2 linked regions of the Homo sapiens genome follow. The protein of the gene in region 2 purifies or fractionates together with the protein of the main gene of each other region. This does not show direct contact. Each region holds a gene or a part of one and is shown on either strand. Other genes may lie near its edges.

Region 1 (3,500 bases), on a different chromosome or scaffold from region 2:
TGTAGGAAGTTATTACTGTTACTATCCCCATCTTACCTGTGAGGAATTGTGGACACAGATGAACTTGCTCAGGGTGGCACAGCTCAGTAATGGCAGAGCTGGAATCTAAACTCAGGCTGACTTTAGACCTGTGCCCTTCACCATTGTGCTGTAATGTCTCCCGTAACATTTGAAGCCTTAAGAACGGATAACTGGCTGCGCATGGTGGCTCACGTCTGTAATCCCAGCACTTTGGGAGGCCGAGGCGGGCGGATCATGAAGTCAGGAGATCAAGACTATCCTTGCTAACACGGTGAAACCCCGTCTCTACTTAAAAAAATATATAAAAAATTAGCCGGGCATGGTGGTGGGTGCCTGTAGTCCCAGCTACTCGAGAGGCTGAGGCAGGAGAATGGCGTGAACCTGGGAGGCGGAGCTTGCAGTGAGACGGGATTGCGCCACTGCACTCCAGCCTGGGCGACAGAGCGAGATCCGTCTCAAAAAGAAGAACAGATAACTTCACCTGAAAGAGAATGTTGAACAAGAAGGTGTCAAAGATATTTGCTTTTTAATTTATATCATCCTGTATTGTATCATTTTTATGTAATAAGCATTGTTCATGTGTCACTTGTGTAATTAATTTTTAAAAATATTTTTATAGAAAAAGGGTAGACCCAGGATTAGAAAGTGCATCAGCTCCATTTTTCTCCTTGGTTAAGTCTGTCATGATCTCCTACCTTTGTGTTTGTCAACAAAGATGATTCCTGAGCTTGTAAGATGGAGGCATGAGATCTCCTCCAAATACTTTAAGTCCGTAGAGCACATAAGAGGTAATAAATAACTGGGCCGGGCGCGGTGGCTCACGCCTGTAATCCCAGCACTTTGGGAGGCCAAGACGGGTGTATCACTTGAGGTCAGGAGTTCGAGACCAGCCTGGCCAACATGGTGAAACCCTGTCTCTACTAAAAATACAAAAATTAGCTGAGCATGGTGATGTGTGCCTGTAATCTCAGCTACTCGGGAGGCTGAGGCAGGAGAATCATTTTAACCCACAAGGCAGAGGTTGCAGTGAGTCGAGATTGCACCACTGCACTCCAGCCTGGGCAACAGAGTGGGACTCCATCTCAAAAAAAAAAAAAAAAAATTATAGCCAATGTGATGGTGTGCACCTGTAGTCCCTGCTACTTTGGGGGCTGAGGCAGGAAGAACCTGGCTGGTCGAGGCTGCAGTGAGCTGAGATGGCGCCACTGCAGTCAAGCCTGGGGTACAAAGTGAGACCCTGTCTCAAAAAAAAAAAAAAGAGGTAATAAATAACTGATTGATTTGTGCCTCCTCCCTTATACATCGGTTCCTTCTAATGACTCCATCTCTTCCAACAATCCTTGTAGCAGGCAGCATGTCAGTAGTTCTGTTTTGTGTCTTCACCTAGGGAAACCATGAGCGTAAGGCAGAAAACCTGACCATGGGGATGCCCCAGGACCACCTTTCCCTGTAGGAAACAGTCTAGGGAGAGGCTGTCAGAGACAGGAACCACTGAGCCGCTTTGTGCACTTCTCCAGGTGTGCGATGACTGTGTGGTGTTGCGTAGTAACATCGGAACAGTGTATGAGCGCTGGTGGTACGAGAAGCTCATCAACATGACCTACTGTCCCAAGACGAAGGTGTTGTGCTTGTGGCGTAGAAATGGCTCTGAGACCCAGCTCAACAAGTTCTATACTAAAAAGGTACGCAGGATCTGTGTTTGGGTTGGGGCTAGTAGGCATTGAAGACCAAATAGTGAATTTCTCTTTGGGAAGTTAAAATTCCAAAACACACATCTGGAGCCACACTTCTGTCTCCAGCTGTTGGGTGGAGTACCTAAAGCTGTCTCTGTCAAGCCAACTAGGCCTAATAGTAGTCACAATCGGTATTAACCAACCATATCTAGCATTCCTACACATCTGTACCCATGCCTTCTTTAAAGCCATACTATTCATATGCTCCGGATCTATCATTCATAACCTCAACAATGAATAAGACATCCGAAAAATAGGAGGACTACTTAAAATTTTACCCCTCACTTCAACCTCCAGCCTTCAGTGGCCATTATAGAGCAGTGGGTGGGGAACCCTGGACAGCCCTCATGATGGGACCACTCTCCCCCTGTGCCACAGTGTCGGGAGCTGTACTACTGTGTGAAGGACAGCATGGAGCGCGCTGCCGCCCGACAGCAAAGCATCAAACCCGGTGAGGAGAGTTTTTCCTGAGAGTGTCTTCCCTGTTTCTACCAGTCCTTCTGAGTGTCAGGGGCCTGGCAGGGAAGTCAGGGGTGGGATTCCCCACCTCACCAGTGAGCTGATAGCCCCCTCCCTCACCACAGGACCTGAATTGGGTGGCGAGTTCCCTGTGCAGGACCTGAAGACTGGTGAGGGTGGCCTGCTGCAGGTGACCCTGGAAGGGATCAACCTCAAATTCATGCACAATCAGGTAGGTGCGAGCGGCAGCACGAGGCTCCCTGTCGTTCCATCTGTAAGAAGGACCAATGTCCAAGCCCCCAGTACTTCCCCAGCAAGCATGAGAGAGGGCCCTCTGGAGCTAGAGGGAGAACTGGAGCAGCTGGACCCAGGAAAGAAACCCCAGGGGAGGGCACAGTGACGTTGGCGACCACCTGGCGCTGTGAAGGTGCACCAGGGAGCCCGTGGGGGAGGCTGGGCAGGAGCGAGGCCAGGTGGCCACGCTGCCCCATCCGTTGGACTCCACACAGTGTGAGTGGGAGCGTCTCACTTGGCCCTTCCCCTGCAGTGTCTCTGCCTTCCTCTATTCCCAGGATATGCTTCTGCTTGGTGGTTTTGCTTTGAGAGTCTAGACTGGCCGATCTCCTTGTGTCTTTCTGGTGTGCGTGCAGCTTGCGTGTGCGTGCGTGCGTGCCTGCGTGCTTGTGTGTAAGTAGCTTGTATCTGTCCTCTCTGGAGTGTGTTTATTTGCCTTTTTCTTCTGCGGATTCTTCTTCCTGTTCTTTTCCTTCCTCTGAGTGTTCCCACTCTGTCCCCTGCTCCACAGGCCCCATTCCCTTTCTTTTGATTGGGGAGCACTTGTGGATACATCTTTCCCTCATTGTAATTCCACCATAGGAGCTGACTTTTTTTTTTCTCTCTTGGTCTTTTAACACAGTGTTACCTTTTTCTCTCAGTGGACATTCCTTAAGCTAATTCCTTTCTGAGGCCAGCGCATCATCCCAGGTCCGTTCACAGCTCTGACTCCTCACACAAGTGCCTTCCCTCCTCTTTCCCTGATGTCCGGGTTCCTCTCCCTGAGGCTCTGAGCCAGACCCAAATGTGTGAAGCCCCACAGACCCTGGCCAGGCCGCAGACCCTCAGGGGAGGTGGATGCCTGACTGACGTGGCTGTCTCCCTCCCTCCGCTAGCCGTTGTAGCTCTCTTTCAGGAACGTAGCTGGGCAGCTTTGGTTTAACAGGAAATGGCTGCGCAGGCTGCCAGCAGCCCCTTAGTATATTTTCAATTTAGGACTTAGGGCAGTAGCCA
Region 2 (3,500 bases):
GCAGGATCCTCACCACCAGCTGGTCCGAGCCATAGAGGTACCGCAGGGCGAAGCTGATACGGCCACAGGGTGCCCCTGTGCCTGCCTCTCCAGAGCCTGGGCCCCCACCGCTCCGCCGGCCACCAGGGCCAGTCCCCTGGTACAGCTCTGGCTTAATCTGCCCAATGAGTTTGGCTTTTTCCTCGCCTCCAGGCAGGGGTAAGGGCAGGGCAGGTGGCCGCTCCTCACTGCTGGGGTCCGGCTGGGAGGTCAGAGTCTGCTGGGTGAGGGGTCGGGGCAGGGCTGGGTACCTGTAGGGGGTTGGGGGGAGACCAAGGTGAGGTCAGTGGCTCTGATCTTCGACTGCATGCAGAGACCTGGGAGACTCCTCCCTGCCTTTCCCCCCATCCCCCAGCCAGGTGGCCACAAGTCCCCTCCTTTGCTCACTGTGTGAGCTTGAGGAAGCCACTGTGCTCTCTGAGCCTCAGATTCCCCATTGGTATCTGGGGGGCATTCCTTCTCTCCCTCCCTCCCTCCCTCCCTCCCTTCTTTCCTTCCTTCCTTCTTTCCTTTTCTTTTGAGACGAAGTTTTGCTCTTGTCACCCAGGCTGGAGTGCAAAGGCGCGATCTCGGCCCACTGCAAACTCTGCCTCCCAGGTTCAAGTGATTATCCTGCCTCAGCCTCCCGAGTAACTGGGATTACAGGCATGCACCACCATATCCGGCTAATTTTTATATTTTTAGCAGAGATGGGGTTTCACCATGTTGGTCAGGCTGGTCTTAAACTCCTGACCTCAGATGATCTGCCCGCCTCGGCCTCCCAAAGTGCTGGGATTACAGGTGTGAGCCACCACACCCAGCCTCATTCTCCCCATTTCAAAGCTAGCTCCAGCCCAGACCTGTGCATAAACCAGCTTCCAGTAACCTCTTTTGGACCTCAAGCTGGTGACCCAGGATGCTTCTCCATGGACCCCTGGCAGACCTTCTTTGAACGCTCTTCTGCCCTTCTCTTAATCTCCCCGGCTGTCTCTCCTCTCTATCCCCACTGTCCTGGTCACAGCTCAGGCCTTGTCCTCTCCTGGACTCTCAGCCTCCAGTGTCTCCCTCCAGCCCACTCCCATATGGCCCCAGAGGGTTCCTTCTACACCCAGAGCTGAGCCTGCCCCTCCCCTGCTCACAGCCCTCCCATGGCTCCTCAGTGCCCTCAGGACAAAGTCCCAGACCCTCAGGCGGGCACTCAAAGCCCCATGTGGTCTGGTGTCTGTAGTCACATCTCTGAAGTTTTCTTTTTCTTTTTTCTTTCTTTCTTTTTTTTTTTTTTTTTTGAGATGGAGTCTCACTCTGCTGCCCAGGCTGGAGTACAGTGGTGCAATCTTGGCTCCCAGGTTCAAGAGATTCTCCCGTCTCAGCCTCCCGAGTAGCTGGGATTACAGACACACACAACCATGCCCGGCTATTTTTGTTTGTTTGTTTTTGTATTTTTAGTAGAGATGGGGTTTCACCATATTGGCCAGGCTGGTCTCGAACTCCTGACCTCAAGTGATCTGCCCACTTCGGCCTCCCAAAGTGCTGGGATTACAGGCATGAGCCACTGCGCCCAGCCTGAAGTTTTCCGTTTTTCAAACTTATTCTCATGCCTTGGTGACTAAGGCTTGGTGCCCTGGCTGTCCCCTTGGTGTGGGCTGTCCTCACAATGCACTAGGATCTCGTTCTCCTCTTGTCTTTGCCTGGGCCTCTCCTTTCACCTGGAATGCCCAGGTCACAGCCCTGCCTCTTTGCCTTCCCAACTCTCCCTCAGCCTGCAGGTCTCAGCTGAGACATCTCCACCTCCAGGAAGCTCCCAGCCTTCTCCCAGTTGCGGTTCCCTGAGTCGCTTTCCTGTCTCACCAACCTGGCTACACCAGGACAGCCAGTCTGGGGGTCGCCTCCCCTGCGCTGTGAGTGACAGGAGGGCAGAGTCTGGTGTTTTCCTAACACCCCTCTCAGGCCTAGTTTATATCAGTGCTCAATATACATTTACATGTATATTGAGAAATAATGAATGAAGGAACTCCAGGTCCCACTACCAATCCTGGCTTAGGGTGAAAGGGGGTGAACTGCCTTGTGCCACAGGGGACTTGGGGATCCAACCTTATTCTCCTCTACTTTCCTGTCCTAAGTCCTGCCCCCAGTCTCCTCCCTCTGGACCCAGGAATTCAGGCCCCCAGTCCCCTACTTCTTCTGGTCCAAGGGGTCTAGACCCCACAGCCCCAACCTCCCTCAGATCCAGGAGTCTAGGGCCCCAGCCTCCTCTTTCCCTAAGATCCAGGAGTCAATACCCCGATTCCCCTCCAAATCCCGAACTCATAAGAGCTATAGATAGGAAAGAGACACAGAGGAGGAGCAGAAGTTCAGAGTGGACCCCCAACCCAGTATCCTCTCTCACCTGGTAGTGGGTGCCAGGCTTGTGACCTGCTGATGTGACTGGGCACTGGGCAAGCCCCCACCACTGGGGGGCAGCAGGAGCAACCCAGAGCCTGCTCCCCCCTCAGAGGGCAGCTCAGGGGATGTTTGGCTCGGTTTGACCCCAGCGGCCACTGCTGCTGCTGCAGCCTCTGGATACGAGTCCATGTCCAAGTAGGAGGGCTCAGGGGTGTCAGAACCCCCCAGGCTGCCTGGCTCCAGCAGCTCAGCAAAGGGTGGATGGTGGGCGGCATGGGCATGGTGGTGTGGGCCGCCCAGCAGAGGATGGCCACCCAGGCCAGCCGCCAGGTGGTGCCCGCCTCCGCCTACCAGGCCTGCCAGCCCGACACCAGGGCCTAGGTCTTTGCGCAGGGGGCCACCGCCCACTGCCGAGCCTCCCTTGTCCCGCCAGGGCACCCAGCACAACTTCCAGGACACGAAGAGAGAGACACCCAGAAGGACAATGCCACAGAATGTCACGATGACCGACAGCAGGCTCACGGAGATGTCTGGAGAGAACGAGGACAGAGGTAGGGGTCAGGATGGGGTCACAGTACATCCTCCCTCTGCTGTCCCCAAAGAGTTAACCCTTCATATTTGCCATGCAATTGTCCATGCAATTGCAAGTGCCAGGCACTTTACATGTATTACTTAATTTATGTTCTACAACTCTACAAGGTTAAGTATTGTATTTTTTTAAAGAGATGGAATCTCTGTTACTCAGGCTGGAGTGCAGTGGCATAATCACAGCTCACTGCACCCTCGAACTCTTGGGCTCAAGCAATCCTCTTACCTCAGCCTCCCAAGAAGCTGGAACTACAGGTATGTGCTATCACACCTGGCTAACTTTTAAATTTTTCTGTAGAGATGAGGTCTTGCTATGTTGCCCAGGCTGGCTCGAACTCCTGGCCTCAAGCAATCTTCCCACCTTGGCCTCCCAAAGTGCTGTGATTACAGATGTGGCCACTGTGCCCAGCCCAGTAGTTCTATATGACCATTTTAAAGATGAGGAAACTGAGACACAGAGAGATTCAGTGATTTGTTTAAGGTTTTACAAGTAATAAATGACAGTTCTGAGA

What was found.
Region 1: the proteins of SYT3 (region 2) and MADD purify together in Homo sapiens (affinity purification with mass spectrometry; 2 studies listed by BioGRID and IntAct, with this or other methods). This does not show direct contact.

Annotation. Positions count from the first base shown.
Region 1 is NC_000011.10:47,322,133-47,325,632, forward strand, and holds part of MADD (MAP kinase-activating death domain protein), read left to right. Parts: intron 1-1,538; coding exon 1,539-1,703; intron 1,704-2,132; coding exon 2,133-2,205; intron 2,206-2,338; coding exon 2,339-2,445; intron 2,446-3,129; exon of another isoform or gene 3,130-3,201; intron 3,202-3,500. UniProt on the Homo sapiens protein: Guanyl-nucleotide exchange factor that regulates small GTPases of the Rab family. Converts GDP-bound inactive form of RAB27A and RAB27B to the GTP-bound active forms.
Region 2 is NC_000019.10:50,629,882-50,633,381, forward strand, and holds part of SYT3 (synaptotagmin-3), read right to left. Parts: intron 2,931-3,500; coding exon 2,405-2,930; intron 291-2,404; coding exon 1-290. UniProt on the Homo sapiens protein: Ca(2+) sensor involved in Ca(2+)-dependent exocytosis of secretory vesicles through Ca(2+) and phospholipid binding to the C2 domain.